4 separate regions of the Homo sapiens genome follow, and regions 2, 3 and 4 are each reported to be linked to region 1. The links are microRNA targets in miRTarBase. Many come from high-throughput screens and were not tested one by one. Region 1 holds a microRNA gene; each other region holds the end of a gene's coding sequence.
The links. The annotated mature microRNA hsa-miR-6752-3p reads UCCCUGCCCCCAUACUCCCAG and lies in region 1 at 1,877-1,897, opposite strand. An mRNA with a match to its seed (bases 2 to 7 or 8) in the 3' UTR can be bound and repressed. Matches are read on the target gene's strand: a 7mer-m8 pairs with bases 2 to 8, a 7mer-A1 pairs with bases 2 to 7 and ends in A, and an 8mer does both.

Region 1 (4,064 bases):
GGTGTGGCTGCCCCCGTGGACTTCCTGCGCAAACAGAGCCAGCTGCTTCGCTCGAGGGGCCCCAGCCAGGCGGAGCGTGAGGGCCCGGGAACACCACCCACCACCCTGGCACGGGGCAAAGCACGGAGCATCAGCCTGAAGCTGGACAGCGAGGAGTGAGGCCCACACCAGCCTGGACCTGGGTTATTTATTGACACACCCAAGGGGCCCGAGGGGCTGCGTGTGGGAGGCTGGGGACCCAGACTTTTGGCCCCAGCGCTGGCCCCCCCAGCCCCACACCCTATATCTCCGTGTGCTCCTCGGTGTTACTTCCCTTTCATATGAGGGGACCCAGCGCCGGGGGGAGGGAGGAGGGCGTGGGCATGGGCGCAGAGGCTTTTCCAGTGTGTATAAATCCATGAAAATAAACGCCACCTGCACCCCACCCACTCACCCCATGCCTGGCATCACAGGGCAGCCAGCCCAGTTTCCAGTTCAACAGGGGACACTGATGTGCACAGAGAGGCCAACACACACCCAGGGCCATCCAGCTCACAGGCAGGGTCAGGATGGGGGCCTGGGCCTCAAAAGGTCGCACGAAACCCACGCCCAGGGCCATCCATGTCACAGGCAGGTCAGGATGGGGGCCTGGGCCTCAAAAGGTCTCACGAAGCGCTCGGCCCTCTCCTCTTTCTGGACAGTCAGCCCACCCCAGCCCAACCCGGCTCACCTCAGCCCCAGCGTAGCTTCTCATGGAAACCCTGCCCCCAGACACCGAGGCCAGGAGACCATGGGATCCGAGGCTGGAGTGGGAGGGCAGCACCAGGAGACTACCTCCCTCAGGTGCCCAGCTACCTAGCTTGTACCCACTTCATCTCCCCCTTAAGACTGTGGGCTCCTGGGGCGCCCCAGCCCTGGCCAGCGAGAGACACTTCCTTGGTGAAAGAGCTCATCGTAATTTCTCTAACAGGGACACCAGAGCCTCAGAGCTGGTGGGTGGAGGGGCTAGGATTTGAACCCTGATTCTTTGCCTCCCAACAGCCACCCAAGTACCAGGAATGCCAGGTGATGACCCGGCTCTCCCAGTGGAGCAGCTCAGCAGACTCAGAGAGAGATAAATAAAGGCCTTTATATACACAGAAGCATGACGCAGCACGGGCAGGGGGGCTGGCAGCTGCAGCAGTGGGCTTGGCAGGTAAGGCAGGGCCAAGTGCTCCTGTCAATGGGAGAAGATCCCCCGGAACCGGGCTTTGTCCTCTTCGTCCTTCTGCCGGATCCGTGCCTCCAGGGCCCGCAGCTCTCGGCTCACCACAGGCGCCAGGGCTGGGTCCAGCTCCAGCACTTTGGCAAAGTCAGCCTGGGCCTCCTGGGCATTCCACACGGCCGCGTGGGCCTTGCCCCGCTTGAAGTAGGCCTTGACGTTGTCTGCAGGGGAGGCCAGTGGGCAGTGGGCATGCAAGGGCATGAGGGGGGATCCTGGCCAGCTGCCTGCCCTCATGTCTCCTGGCACCATGGGCCCACAGGGGAGAGAGAGCCCTCCCTGACCTGAGGATGCCACCCCACCCCCAATACACCATTCATGCTTCATTGGCACAATGGGGCCCACAGCCCTGCCGAGTAGAGGCATTTAGTCAGGCCCCCGTGGGAGCTCAGAATGGGGGTTGTGAAAGGCTAGGTCTTGACCCCAGCAGTGACAGGAGAAAGGCCACTCTCTGACCACTCGCAGCCCCCGGCAGCCCAGGGCCCGGTGCTCACCGTCGTACTTGTTGAGGATGGAAGAGCAGTGGTCCAGCACCTCGTAGTACTCCTCGACCACCAGCTTGCACTGGCAGTAGTTGAGCAGCAGCGGCGTGATCTGCTGGTCCAGCTGGATCCATTCAGGGGACCCAGGCTGTTCCTGGGAGTATGGGGGCAGGGAGCGGGGAGAAGCTGTAGACCTGGGCCCCCTGGCTCCACACCCCCCTCCATCCATCCTCCCCCTCAGCCTCCAGGCAGTACCTTCATCTGCAGGTTCTTGAGGCAGGCAATGGCATCGTAGTACTTGGCAGCAGCCTCCTTCACATGCCCCTCGCGGTACAACCGGTTGCCCTCCTGGTGGATAAGTGGCACTGCCTTTGCCTTCTCTTCGTCTGTCATGGCCCATGGGTCCTGCTGGTACGTGCCAGGGCTCTCCACCTGCAGGGCATGGGGCATATCACAGCGGGGCTCGGGGACACCACAGCTGCGTCCGTCAGCAGCAGACCTGACCCACATCTGGGCTGGCTGGGCCCCCAGACATCACACACCAGCAGCAGAGCTACTTGTCACTCAAAAAGCATCAAACATCGATGTCACATCTCCTGTGTGCCCAGCACTGTGCCAAGTGCTAAGAATAGAACAGTGAACAAGACGGTGAAAAGCCCTGCCCTCGCAGAGATCATGCTGCATGGCAGGTTCCCTAAATGGACAAGGAAATCCATGAATTCCAAGGGACTTCAAGGTGCGGCAGAGGCTATAAAGGAAATGAGCTGCTGCGAGACAGAGAATGAGGAGACCGGGTGGGCAGGGCCGGTTTCCTGGAGGAGGTGACATTTGAGATGTGAAGGAGGAGGAAAGGAGACCCAGGGTACTGCCAAGGGTCCTGCACAGGTTTTCTTGTCTCTGTCCGCTCCCCCAGCAGTCCACCTGCGGATCCCACCACCCCTGGGTGGACAGGCCAGCGCCGCCCTGAGGCTGGGCAGTGGGGGCCTGGTGAGACCAGGCGCGGTGGCCCCTCACCTTCAGCATCTCCATGTGGAAGATGAGGGGCTGGGGGTTCTGCTGCAGGGCGTCCAGGTCAGCATGGCCCAGGGAGCTGTGTTCACGCATCTGTGCAACACCGCAGCAGTGCCGCTGGCCCTCCAGGGGGTCCTTGCCCACCGCGATGTTGCGGAGACTCTTGGCCACCAGCGGGTACAGGACCACATGCTGCGGGAAGGCAAGGGCGCCGGGGGCTCTGTCACCGTGGGCTGGCTGGTCACCGGGTCCACAAGGCCCAGCCCCCTTCCCCACCACCATCTGAGAACAAACACCAAGGCCCAGAGAGTGACAACTGGGACCCTACTCCGTTTAAGCACAGGAGGCTTTTAATTCAGGACTCCTCCAGTCGCTCAGCCCTCTCTCCTGGTGAAGCCCCAGCTTCTGCCACATTCTCTGGCCACCAAACAGAGCACCTAACCCCCTCCTCACCCCCACCACAGACACATGCCTACCATCAACCCCTGTCTCCCTGGTCCTTACAGGCCCAGTAGAATTCTTACCTCCTCTCCCTCCAGAGGATAAGGCCCTTTGCTGGACTATGCAAAGAACTGGGGCCCCCCACATTCTGTTCCCAGCAGCTCCTCCTTCTGCCCCACCCACACCCCACTGAGGGCCTACCTCAGAGCTGGGCCCAGGCCAGCCACTTCAAAACCCTCAGGGAGGCCGGATGTGGTGGCTCACGCCTGTAATCCTAGCACTTCGGGAGGCCAAGGCGGGCGGATCACCTGAGGTCAGGAGTTCAAGACCAGCCTGACCAACATGGTGAAACCGCGTCTCTGCTAAAATACAAAAATGAGCCGGGCACGATGGCAGGTGCCTGTAATCCCAGCTACTCAGGCAGCTAAGGCAGAGAATCAGCTGAACCCAGGAGATGGTGGTTGCAGTGAGCCAAGATCACGCCACTGCACTCCAGCCTGGGCAACAGAGTGAGACTTAGTCAAAAAAAAAAAAACCCCACAGGGAGACAGGCATAGGGGACCTAGCCTCTAATCTCTTGCTTGGCAAAGCTGCTAGGCTGGTGGGAACCAGATAACCAGATTCCTCCTACCCGGGTCCTCCCCACTCCTCCCACTGCCCTGTTGTCTGGACAGGGGCTGACTGCCGGGCTGCCATCAGCGGGCATTTCCTGAGTCTTGGCTCTGGACTGGCTCGCGCTGGGCATCCCAAAGCTAGAAGTAAACAGGCCAGATCCCTGCTCTGCAATAGCCTAGGACAAGGCAGAAGAGCAGATCCTGGCCATGCAGGGCATGAGGGTTGGAGGACCCAAACATGGGAGTTGAGCCAACCACTAGCAGTCAGGGAGGGCT
Region 2 (4,064 bases), not on the chromosome of region 1:
TGGTTTCGGTGGGAATGACAACTTTGGTCGTGGAGGAAACTTCAGTGGTCGTGGTGGCTTTGGTGGCAGCTGTGGTGGTGGTGGATATGGTGGCAGTGGGGATGGCTATAATGGATTTGGTAATGATGGAAGCAATTTTGGAGGTGGTGGAAGCTACAATGATTTTGGCAATTACAACAATCAGTCTTCAAATTTTGGACCCATGAAGGGAGGAAATTTTGGAGGCAGAAGCTCTGGCCCCTATGGCGGTGGAGGCCAATACTTTGCAAAACCACAAAACCAAGGTGGCTATGGCGTTTCCAGCAGCAGCAGTAGCTATGGCAGTGGCAGAAGATTTTAATTAGGAAACAAAGCTTAGCAGGAGAGGAGAGCCAGAGAAGTGACAGGGAAGCTACAGGTTACAACAGATTTGTGAACTCAGCCAAGCACAGTGGTGGCAGGGCCTAGCTGCTACAAAGAAGACATGTTTTAGACAAATACTCATGTGTATGGGCAAAAAACTCGAGGACTGTATTTGTGACTAATTGTATAACAGGTTATTTTAGTTTCTGTTCTGTGGAAAGTGTAAAGCATTCCAACAAAGTGTTTTAATGTAGATTTTTTTTTTTGCACCCATGCTGTTGATTGCTAAATGTAATAGTCTGATTGTGACGCTGAATAAATGTCTCTAAAAAAAAAAAAGATCTTTGGTGGAATCCGTAGGCTGCTTTTTCATCTGGTGGCTGTGGCTCTCTGGTGTTTTGTCCTCAACAGCCACATCTAATATGAGCACTGGGAAGAAGACTCTTTCTAAGGCTGCTCAGCTTTAGAGTACATTTCTTGATGGTGTGAGCTTGGTGTCCTGTCTCAGAGTCACTAGTTTCCCAGCCCGAAACAGTTGTGTCTCAATGCCCTCCATCCTGCCTTTTCCACCCGGCCAATTACACACCATTCTAGGTCTGTTTTGTAGCACTCCACTTCCAAATACCAAATTGTCTATCAGTTTGGATTCTTAGTCGTAAGCAACAGAGATGGATTCTGGTTTTCAGCATAAGATAAATTGTATTAGAAGAATATTGTGCTGCTTGCAGAATGGCCAAAAGGACTAGAGAATCAGCATCAGTCTGAGCCACACGGCTGGGAATAAATCCTGGAACCATACTGCATAACTGGTCGGGTGAGGAGATTGTAGCCACTGTTGCCAAGCACTGACACACTGCTTTGTAACACTATCTGCTGCTTTGGGAATTTGATCTTGACACATGTGCTACTGCATCTGGAGAGGATACACTAAGGTCCTTCCTTGATTTGTTGTTGCTAACCAGTTACCAATTTTAAAGTATGTGCAAGTTCAGCTTAAGTTGTTTGGCATTTTCAGCTTTTATAGAGGGAGACTGGCTCAGTGGGAAGACTCAAGGAATTCCCCAGACATAAGAAGGAGCTGAATTCTAAGTAACCCAAAAGAAAGACCTACTTAAGGACAAATCCAGGTTTTGTGGGGCCAAAATTTACACAATTTGTTGGGGTTGTGGGAGTGGGGAGGGGATTTATTTAGGAAAAATACGTACAAAATTATATTAACAAATTAGATAGGGTTTGAAGGGGCTTTTGCAAATAAACACCCCTGAAGCTGTACTTTCCAAATCACTCCGCTAGATCTGATTTCAAGCCCACTCTGCTCAGCACAGGTTATCTCATGCTGGTTACCTCCTATATGTTCTTCAGGCTTTGGCTGAGACATTACTTACTCTGAGCTTTCAAAATCTTCTGACTGCTTTCACAGAACCCCTTTAATCTCTCCCATTTAGACATATATGACACTATAATAACTGCCTGTTGATATGCGTGATTCCAACACTAGATTATTAAGCACCAAGATTGCAGTCATTTTAGTATCCCCAGTCCCTCGCATATCTATACATAGGAGGGATTCAATATTTATTAAGTGAGAAAACTACATATTCTCCTTGCCTTTTTTTTCTTTCTTTTTTGAGACAGGGTCTCGCTCTGTTGCCCAGGTTGGAGTGCAGTGGCATGATAACAGCTCACTGAACCTCGACCTGGGCTCAAGCAATCCTCCCACCTCAGCCTCAGTACACTCAGTGGACTACAGGCATGCACCACCACATCTGGCTAATGTATTTTGTAGAGAAAGTGTTTTACCATATTGCCCAGGCTGGTCTCGAGCTCCTGGGCTCAAGGGATGCTCCTGCTTTGGCATCCCAAAGTGATGGGATTACAAGTGTGAGCTACTGCGCCTGGCCTCCTTGTGCTCATGTTCTTATGTTGCTTACCACCATCCATATGCTGATGACTATCAATTCTTATCTATAGCTCTAAATGTGTTTTAAAAAAATAGCTTTAGGCCGGGCGCGGTGGCTCACGTCTGTAATCCCAGCACTTTGGGAGGCCAAGGCGGGCGGATCATGAGGTCAGGAGATCGAGACCATCCTGGTTAACAAGGTGAAACCCCATCTCTACTAAAAATACAAAAAATTAGCTGGGTGTGGTGGCGGGTGCCTATAGTCCCAGCTACTCAGGAGGCTGAGGCAGGAGAATGGTGTGAACCCGGGAGGCAGAGCTTACAGTGAGCCGAGATCACGCCATTGTACTCCAGCCTGGGCAACAGAGCAAGACTCCATCTCAAAAAATAAAATAAAATAAAATAGCTTTATAGGGCTATAGTTGACATAAAGCAAACCATGCACATTATTTAAAGTGTACAGTTTGAAGTGTTACATATGTATACACTCGTAAAATCATCACCATAATCAAGATAGTGAACATACCTATTACCCCAATGTTTCCTCATGCCCCTTTTATTCTTGAAATTCCACCCTGCTCTCCAGCCCCCACCCCCACCCAGTAAACCACTGATTGTCATACAGATGAGTTTTAAAATTTTTCAGGATTTTATATAAATGGAATCATACAAAATGTACTATTTTTGTCTGATTTTTTTCACTTAGCATAATTTTGAGATTCATCCATGTTATAGTGTGTAGCAATACTTCATTCCTTTTATTGCTGAGCAGTATTCCATTGTATGGCTATACTGGCTATACTGCTGTTGTTTTTTGTTTGTTTTGAGATGGAGTCTCGCTCTGTCGCTCAGGCTGGAGTGCAGTGGTGTGATCCTGGCTCACTGCAACCTCCACCTCCTGCATTCAAATGGTTCTCCTGCCTCAGCCTCCTGAGTAGCTGGGAATATAGGTGCGTGCCACATTTTTTTGTATTTTTAGACGAGACAGGGTTGGCCAGGCTAGTCTCAAACTCCTGATCTCAGGTGATCCACCCGCCTCCGCCTCCCAAAGTGTGGGATTACAGTCATGAGTCACTGCACCTGGCCAGCTGTACTACTGTTTATCCATTCACCTATTGATGTACATTTGGGTTGTTTCCAGTTTTCAACTGTTAACCATTAAAACTGCTATAAACAGACACAGACATTTTGTACAAACATTGCATGAACATGTTATTTCATATCTCTTGGGTGCTAATTGTGTAGCAGTGGTCTAAGTCATTTTATGGTTGTGCCTTTTTACATTCCTACCAGTGGTGTATGAGTCTTCCAGTTGCTCTACATCCTTGCCAACATGGTCAGTCTTTCTCCTTTTAGCCGTTTAAATGGGTGTGTAGTGGCATATGGTTGTGGTTTTAATTTCTATTTCCCTATTGACTTACAGTTTCTGAGTTTTGAGACATCTTCATATATTCTGGATGCAAGCTCTTCATCAGAGATGTGATTGCAAATATTTTCATAGTGTAGAATCTTTTAAATTTTGGTGAAGTCTAATTTACAAATTTCTTCTTTTATGGATCATGCTTTTGGTGTGCTAAGAAATCTTTGTCTAACCCAAGATCACAAAGATTTTCTTTCCTCTAGAAGTTTTATAGGAGTTGTAGCCCCATAATCCATTTTGAGTGAATTGTTGTACATGGTGCAAAGATACACACTGAAACTCACTTTTTGGCACATGTATATCCAGTCTGTTTTAAAGTCTCTCCTTTTCAACTGTTTTTTCTCCACTGAATTACCTTTGGACCTTTGTTAAAAATCAGCTGTCTACATATGGTATGGGTCT
Region 3 (4,064 bases), not on the chromosome of region 1:
ATATTTGATAGTAAAGCCAAGGATTTGGGACAGGAAACTTAGATGACATCTAGTTCAAACTCCTTGATTTACATATGAAAAAATTGAGACAGAGGGAAATGAAGATTTCCCCATATCATATAACTGGCTAAAGGGAGCTATGTAGGTAAAACCAAGATGTCCTGATATTCTAGTCTACCAGAAAGTGTTCTTTTTTTCTACCCAACTTATTCCTGATTTAAAGGCTAGTATACGTGTGCTGATCTCCCCTCAGTGGGAGGGGCATGGACGTTGGGAGTAGTCTCTATTCACAACAAATTAAAAATCAGTAATCAGCCGTATAATGGGTTGTGTTAGAAAGTAAACTAAGGCCCAATAAAATATTTAAGAGTTTATTTGAGCAGTGATCCAGAAGTGGCTAGGGAGCTCCCCAGAGAGAACATGAGGAGGAGGCTTTTTAGGACAAATAGATAAAAGCAAAGATAATATTTCATTGGTTACAGTTATACAGTTACACAGTTATACAGTTGCCTTATTTGGTCTATCCCATGAGGAAGTCCTAGTTACTAATTACGTTTTTGTTGGCTGCTTCTGATTGGTTGAGCTTAAGTTCTGTGTTTCTTTAACATAGGCATTTACAAGAAATACCACAAATAAAGTTTCAGACATGCTTGCAAATCAAGCAAGGTTAAGGTCACTTAGGAGGCCCAACTGGCTCTGTCTGCTCAAGGATTCTTCTGGCCTCGTCTCCATTTTACATGAACTGTTGCATAAATAAACACAGAGTACCTGAAACAACGGAGGTGATCATTCTGCCTACCGAGTGTTGGCCAGGCCAAGCTTGGAGTGTTGCTCTTATTCTTAGGGAGTTTATTTTTAAGTAATCTCATCTGTAAATGGGATTACAATCCACAAACTGACCTTGTATATGATTCCATTCCTTCTCCCAGCCCAGCCCCACACTCCAAGGTTTTCCCTTTGCTTATAAGGGGTAGTCACCCTTTTTTATTTCGACCTTCCAAACATTCTGGGAGTTTTCCTCCTTTAGGCCAACTACAGCGCAGAGGAGCGCTTTCTCCTGCTGGGTTTCTCCGACTGGCCTTCCCTGCAGCCGGTCCTCTTCGCCCTTGTCCTCCTGTGCTACCTCCTGACCTTGACGGGCAACTCGGCGCTGGTGCTGCTGGCGGTGCGCGACCCGCGCCTGCACACGCCCATGTACTACTTCCTCTGCCACCTGGCCTTGGTAGACGCGGGCTTCACTACTAGCGTGGTGCCGCCGCTGCTGGCCAACCTGCGCGGACCAGCGCTCTGGCTGCCGCGCAGCCACTGCACGGCCCAGCTGTGCGCATCGCTGGCTCTGGGTTCCGCCGAATGCGTCCTCCTGGCGGTGATGGCTCTGGACCGCGCGGCCGCAGTGTGCCGCCCGCTGCGCTATGCGGGGCTCGTCTCCCCGCGCCTATGTCGCACGCTGGCCAGCGCCTCCTGGCTAAGCGGCCTCACCAACTCGGTTGCGCAAACCGCGCTCCTGGCTGAGCGGCCGCTGTGCGCGCCCCGCCTGCTGGACCACTTCATCTGTGAGCTGCCGGCGTTGCTCAAGCTGGCCTGCGGAGGCGACGGAGACACTACCGAGAACCAGATGTTCGCCGCCCGCGTGGTCATCCTGCTGCTGCCGTTTGCCGTCATCCTGGCCTCCTACGGTGCCGTGGCCCGAGCTGTCTGTTGCATGCGGTTCAGCGGAGGCCGGAGGAGGGCGGTGGGCACGTGTGGGTCCCACCTGACAGCCGTCTGCCTGTTCTACGGCTCGGCCATCTACACCTACCTGCAGCCCGCGCAGCGCTACAACCAGGCACGGGGCAAGTTCGTATCGCTCTTCTACACCGTGGTCACACCTGCTCTCAACCCGCTCATCTACACCCTCAGGAATAAGAAAGTGAAGGGGGCAGCGAGGAGGCTGCTGCGGAGTCTGGGGAGAGGCCAGGCTGGGCAGTGAGTAGTTGGGGAGGGGAGAAAGTATTAAGCCAGAACCCAAGGATGGAAATACCCCTTAGTGAGTCAGTTTAGACTTCAGGCTGTTCATTTTTGTATGATAATCTGCAAGATTTGTCCTAAGGAGTCCAATGGGGGATATGTTTTCCTCCCGTGAGGAAATGTTTAGTTCTTGAGGGAAAATCCCTAAATCCTCTATATACTCAGGTTTAGGGAAGGAAAACCTACCCCTCACAACTCCACGCGCAGGGAAAATGATGGACGTGATGCTCGCCTTTAGCTTCCTCCCTATCTGATGGAAGACCATGGAAGACCTCTTGGTCTCTGCAATCAGAAGTCTCAAGTTGACAAGAAAATCATAGTCCCTACCCTGCAGGAGAGGGTACATCCAGAAAAAGCGACCATGGACTCTATTCTCAGAAATCAGTCCAACTTAGTGCAGACCTGGCCAGATGACCAGTGCCCTCCCCGGGGCATTTCACCCATAAATGTGATGAGGAAAGCCCATAAATGGTGGTGAATTTTGCTGAGTGGGGTTAAGACTGGAAACCCCCCTGCAGGAGTTGGTTCTTGAGCAAGTTTTAAAGAAACAAGGAACTAGGATGAGTGTGGAAGAAGGCGGGCACGTCTCAGCCCGTGAAAAAAACTCACAGGTGATCAGTAGTGAGTCATGAGAGAGAGAGCAAGAGAGAGAGTCAGAGAGAGGAGTAAATGGAGGGAGGAAGATGGAGGAAGGGACTCAAGTTCTCAAGACAGGAACAGGGATCTCCTCATGAAAAAAAGAAGAGAGGAAAATGCTCAATCAGCAGAACCTGAGCAGAATATTGAGGTCAACCCAGAAGCCAGCTCCTCACCCACCCTCACCCAGACTGGCGCCCTCATCCTGGAGAAGACCTGCTAGACCCTAAGGCAGGTAGGAGAGAGGGTGGTCCACAGTCCCCCAGCTTTAGAAAGTTTGTTCGCTCCCAATGTCCATCTACCCCTAGGAATCCCCACTAGTTAAACAGAATTGCTAGATCCCTGTGGAAAATACCTTTCCTTGCCCACCATCATCCCCAGAAATAATAACTATTTTAGTTGGGTGTGAGACATAGAGAATAAAAGGGGGCATGGTGCCAGACTTCATTTCATACAAATAGCTTTAAAGGAGAAGAGGGGGGAAGGAGTTTAATTTAGTTTCTAAAATGTTTAGTAATTTGATTGTGATCATGTCAGAGCAACTAATTCATTTTATAAAATATCATTTCACTATGCTCTATAAGTAGAAATTCAATTTGGTTCAACCATTATTGAGTGATATAAATAAAGCACTGGACTTAACAAAGACAGAAATACAGAAATCAGTAGAACATGGATCCCAACCTAAAACTTACTCTCTTGTCATAAAGGAAAGGAGATAGGAGTTTTTGCATAAATAACAAGGTATCAAGACAGAATTAAATTCCAAGCTGGCTTTGAATGCTCTATTTTGCCTTAAAAATTTATTTACTAGTCTCAGTAATACATTAGTAAAAATCATGTCACTTAATTAATTGTGTTAGAATCAAAGAAACATAGAGTTGGGCAATATACTTCATCCTACCCATCCCACCCAAATCTTACTCTACTCATCTCATTCTCATTAATTTTGGGAAATCATCAGAAGATGTGTTCGTTGAGTAAGAGATTAAAAGAAATAAGCTTTTTGACCCCTGCCAACACCCCATGCCCAGGGTGGTCACCCTCCAATACAATAACATGCCAGGAAGAGTAAGTTGCCCTTTCTGATGCCGTAATCTGCCATCATCTTCCCATCTTCCAGTCTCTTTCCATTGCAAGTCACAATCTGGGTCTCAGGGATTATACCCGTCTTAGTCTCGATCATTGCTTTCACTTGTGCCACTGAGCTGGACCTTCGCACCTGGAGGAGGTGCCTCTTTGCCTCATCACCTGACTCCACAAGAAACAAGGGCAGCTCCTCATCACTGGGCTTCACCACTTTCAGGGTAAGGTGGATGGTCTTCTCTTTGTCAATGCCATAAGATGAGAGGCTTCTCCGTGGCTTTAAGATCTTGGAGCCCAGCAAAAGAACCTGGTCCTGCACAGGAACCTTGGTCTTA
Region 4 (4,064 bases), not on the chromosome of region 1:
TGGCCCAGGAAAGCGAGTACCTCATTGGCCAGGCCCTCTACGCAAACCGAGAAGCAGCCCGCCAGCGGGCCCTGAATCCCAGCCACTTCATGTCAACCATAACTGCCAATGGCCCTGAGAACTCTGTGGGATAAAATGACCTGACTTGGATCATGGCCCCAGCCCCATCCCTCATTTCATACCCCTGCCATGCCTGCTGCAGAGTATCACACTGGTTCAGAGGGAGCGGGGAGGGGGACTGTGAATAACCTTGGAGTGATCAAGGGTTGTATGGATGGAGACATGAGGCAGGGAAGGGAGCCTGGCATGGGGGAAGAAAGGGTATGCAGTAGGGACCCAGCCTTTGTGCCCAGGGAAAGGATATTACTGGACACCCACAAATGACCAACTTCTTTCAGGAACAGGGAAGTCAGAGAGGTGTCTGAGGGACTGTGCCTGCCAGATTCTCCCGTTGGGGCTGCCTGCCTCCCTGACTCCCCACCATTTTCTTCTCTACCAAACAGATCCTTGATCTTCAAACACACACACACACACACACACACACACACACACACACACACACACACCCTCTGGCTACAGCAGGGCTATGCCTGGCTCTCTCTGCCACCCTCATCCCTGTAGATGCATTTCCCTGTTGCTTGACTCTGCTTTAAGTGATCCAGTTCTACAGGCCACGCCATCCCCTAGTTCCCCAACTCCCAACCTGGGAAGGGGACAATGAGCTGACACCAGGGGCTCAGACCCAGTGGACTCCTCTGGGGAGGCAACTGTAGATGACAACTTCCAGGGAAGGATGACACAATCCCTGCCACCCACCCCAGAGAGCTTCCCTGGGAGGGAGGGAAAGAAGTGCCACACTGGGACAGGAAGTCAGTGAGTCATCCACGACTTTATTATCCACCAGTTTGATTTGTACAATCTTTGCGCTTAAATCCACGACAAAAAGGCCACAGTGTGATGCACCCAATTGACAGAGACCTGTCTTCTCCCCAGCCAGGCCCAGCCCACCCCACAAGCCCTTGTCCCCAGGACACATGGAGCCTTCCAGGTGCCCTACATGAGTCCCCCATCACTCTGTAGCTGTCCACCCTGGGGCCACACCTACAGGAATCACATCAGCCCCCAGGGCCACAAGAGACCTAGCTGACTGATTCAGGCTGAGCGCCATTGCCCATCCTCCTTGGGCTGATTCATTGGCCCAGAGCCTCCAGAACTGTGTCCCCAAAGGGCAGGTCATGGGCTACAACCCCAGTCCAGGAGTGCCTGCTCTCCAGGGACTCCTTCCGCTAAGCAGGCGCTGAGCAGAGCACCAAAGGGGGCTTGGGAGTGACTGCATGTGTGTGCCTGTCTAGGCAACCTAGAGTCTGTCTGTGCCTGACACCCTCTGACAGTTCCGGAGTGCAAACGTGTAGGTGTGAGGGTGTGTGTGTGTGTGTGTGTGTGTATAGCCACAGCTGCTAGCAGAAGTTCTAATTAGAGAAACAAGAACATTCAGTGTAAAGTTTAATTTTAGAGATTAATTAATTTTCTGGTTTTCATTTTCCCTGGCAATCAGTAAAGCTACCAAGAAAATAGACCAAAGAATTGGTTTCTCTCTAAGTCTGTGCATGTGTGGGAGATGAGGCTGTCTGAGACGACCTAGGCAGAAATGGTCAATACAGGCAAAAATAATAATAGAGGTCCCCCTTCCCCTCTTGTGAGACCAGGCTCTGTCTCAGGAACAGGCCTGAGGGAGGAGGAGCCACGTTCCTCCTTCCTTGGAGCCCTGAGGTGGCCAGGCTGTCCCCACACAAAGCATGACATCCAGGTGCCAGCTGGCTAAGAAATGGAGCCTGAGGCTGCAGCTCACCACCTGTACCTCACAGATGTCCATTCAGAGGAAAGAAGGGTGCTCCAAACGCCAGGCCCCCAAGGAGCACAGACTCAGGGTCCAGGCAGGTTCAGTGCTAGTAGGCAGGTGGGCACTGCTGTCCAGGAAAACCTGGTGGGCAGCTGTTTCCCCTGCCCAAGCCTCCCTCTCTCTAGCCTCTTCTCCCTCCTCACTCAGCCATCTCTACCTGAAAGTAAAGCTAAACCCTTTAGAAGCCATGGGCCATGGTATCCCCACAATTTGGGCCCCTCGCACTCCCCGCTAGGAAGAAGGGAAGGGGAGCCAGAGGCGATGTTGCATAGGTGGAGGCCACACAGTTGGTGGTGCAGGCCTGGCTGGGCTGAAGGAAGATGAGAGGGGCTGAAGGAGGGTAAGGAGGAGTTCTGATGGCTCAGGCGAAGTAAGAAGCATCAGGGGTGAGAGATGTGGGTGGCCCAAGGGTTATCCTCTCTAGCCTGAAATGTGAGCTCAATCCCTGGGTGCTAAATCTGCTGGGGAGACTTTAGCCAGGGGAGTTGGCAGGGCAGGAGGGCTGTTCACAGACATGCACACTGAAGCACATCAGGGTGGAGGTGGTGGGGGGAGCACACGGAGAGAAGGCGGTGTCAGAGCTTTAGGGGAACAGGACGTGGGGCCAGCGCCCTGGGGTGGTGGCAGGATGCCCCTTTGAAGACCCTGCGACACACAGCAGGGCTTCAGCTCATAGGATAGGGAAGGATGGAAGGGTTGGGCAAGATTTAGAGAATGCTTGCCTCTGACCCTGCCATTGGAATTATTTCTCCAGTTGGGGCTTGTGACAACGTCCTCAGTCCCCCAGAGATGTGTTTGAGCGACAAGCACACTCCACTCCTCCGCACAGGTTTAGGGAGGCAAAGGCCGCCCCCACAGACACCCCACCTCTGGAGGTCCTTTTCCTCTACCCTCCACTGCCCTCTCCTCTCTTACTCCCACCTGCTTCCAGAGGTCCCCGTTGCCACCCAGGTCTATGTCATGCTCTCTCCCCTTAGTCACTCGTGCTGGCCAGCTTTAACGAGTGCTGCCCGGGTGGCATCTCACTCTCTAAAAGGGGTATACACTCAGAACCCAGGTGAGGAGGCCCCTGTTGGGAGGCTGAGGAGTTTAGAGAGAGGACTGAGGTACACAGTCCTCCACATTTCACTCCCCTCCCCACTGCACCCTGGCAACAGCTCTGCAGGACTGGGGAGCGGAAGGTGAGTGATGTCTGTGCAGTGAGCACAGTCCCTCTGGACCTGGAGTGGGGGCCCAGTTAGATAAACAACAGTGGAGGGAGCGGCAGAAAGGAAACCCCAATCTTGGGGTCAGCGCCAAGAAGAGGGCAGCAACATTTCCACGGTGTTGGATGGAGGCCTAGGGCTGACACCTGGCCCCAGCCTCAGACCTGCTGAATGCATTAGCTAGTTGGAATCCAGCCTGCTGGTCACCAAACCATTGCCCCCTCCATAGAGAGAGGCCCCAGGGGAGTGAGGCCACGAAGGAAGGAAAGCCCCAAGTTCCCTTCTCCACAGCCTCTAAATCTCCCATCCGCATGCCAGGGCCTCTCCCTTCAGACAAGGCCCAACGCGGGGCCCACGGCACGGTTGTCATCTAACAGAAGATCTGTTGAAGGGCTGGACAGGAGGGAGGTGTCCCTTTAGGAACTCAGGGTTGGGGCTGGAAGAATGACTCTGCCAGGGGGATCTCGGGGAGCAGCCGACCCCCTCCCACCCATCGGTCTCTTTATGTACAGGGACAGCGGGGGTCTCGGCCCCATCCGGGCCTGTCTTGCGGCCCTCACCTCCCTTTCCCTGCCCCCCGCGCGGCCTCAGTCACCGTGGTGACTCGCCCTGCGTCGCAGAGGGAGCACAGTCCGGCGAGGGGCAGGCGGGAGGACGGCGCGGGCCACTCCGGGGCCGGAGGTCACAGTGAGGTCTCTACGCAGGAGCCGTGGCGGTGCAGCGGCCGGTGGCTGTGGCCCAGACACCCCTCCTGCCGGTGGACGATGAGGACCGGAAAGTAGAGGGCGTCGTGGTAGGGCGGCGGCGGCCCGGCCTCCTCCTCGTCGTCGTCCTCGTCGTCCCCCATGCTGGCCTGGCTGGACAGCCGCGTCTGCTCCGTGGGGCAGCTGGCCTCGTTGACGCTCCCGCTGCGGCTGCGCCACAGGCAGCTGCGCCGGGAGCCGTAGAGACGGCCCAGC

Region 2: the mRNA of HNRNPA1L2 is a reported target of hsa-miR-6752-3p. Seed matches in the 3' UTR shown: 7mer-m8 at 436-442.
Region 3: miRTarBase lists UBD as a target of hsa-miR-6752-3p. Seed matches in the 3' UTR shown: 7mer-m8 at 3,655-3,661.
Region 4: the mRNA of TMEM151B is a reported target of hsa-miR-6752-3p. Seed matches in the 3' UTR shown: 8mer at 3,673-3,680, 7mer-m8 at 2,629-2,635 and 7mer-m8 at 2,000-2,006.

Annotation. Positions count from the first base shown.
Region 1 is chr11:67,488,128-67,492,191 of GRCh38, reverse strand. MIR6752 (microRNA 6752) reads right to left here and starts at 1,947; the gene lies at 1,877-1,947. It overlaps AIP (AHR interacting HSP90 co-chaperone), which reads right to left. Exons shown (of 6, transcript NM_003977.4): 3 at 2,737-2,925; 4 at 1,978-2,154; 5 at 1,735-1,876; 6 at 1,089-1,404. The coding sequence ends at 1,199. It overlaps PITPNM1 (phosphatidylinositol transfer protein membrane associated 1), which reads left to right. Exons shown (of 24, transcript NM_004910.3): 24 at 1-424. The coding sequence ends at 159.
Region 2 is chr13:52,643,116-52,647,179 of GRCh38, forward strand. It overlaps HNRNPA1L2 (heterogeneous nuclear ribonucleoprotein A1 like 2), which reads left to right. Exons shown (of 1, transcript NM_001389320.1): 1 at 1-658. The coding sequence ends at 340. Among named protein-coding and RNA genes, the nearest start is that of HNRNPA1L2, 2.7 kb to the left of the region's middle.
Region 3 is chr6:29,552,198-29,556,261 of GRCh38, forward strand. It overlaps UBD (ubiquitin like modifier D), which reads right to left. Exons shown (of 2, transcript NM_006398.4): 2 at 3,318-4,064. The coding sequence ends at 3,683. OR2I1 (olfactory receptor family 2 subfamily I member 1 (gene/pseudogene)) reads left to right here. Exons shown (of 2, transcript NM_001396058.1): 2 at 1,028-4,064. The coding sequence ends at 1,969. Among named protein-coding and RNA genes, the nearest start is that of OR2I1, 3.8 kb to the left of the region's middle.
Region 4 is chr6:44,276,251-44,280,314 of GRCh38, reverse strand. TMEM151B (transmembrane protein 151B) reads right to left here. Exons shown (of 3, transcript NM_001137560.2): 3 at 871-4,064. The coding sequence ends at 3,788. It overlaps DRC5 (dynein regulatory complex subunit 5), which reads left to right. Exons shown (of 5, transcript NM_182539.4): 5 at 1-1,581. The coding sequence ends at 134. Among named protein-coding and RNA genes, the nearest start is that of TMEM151B, 7.8 kb to the right of the region's middle.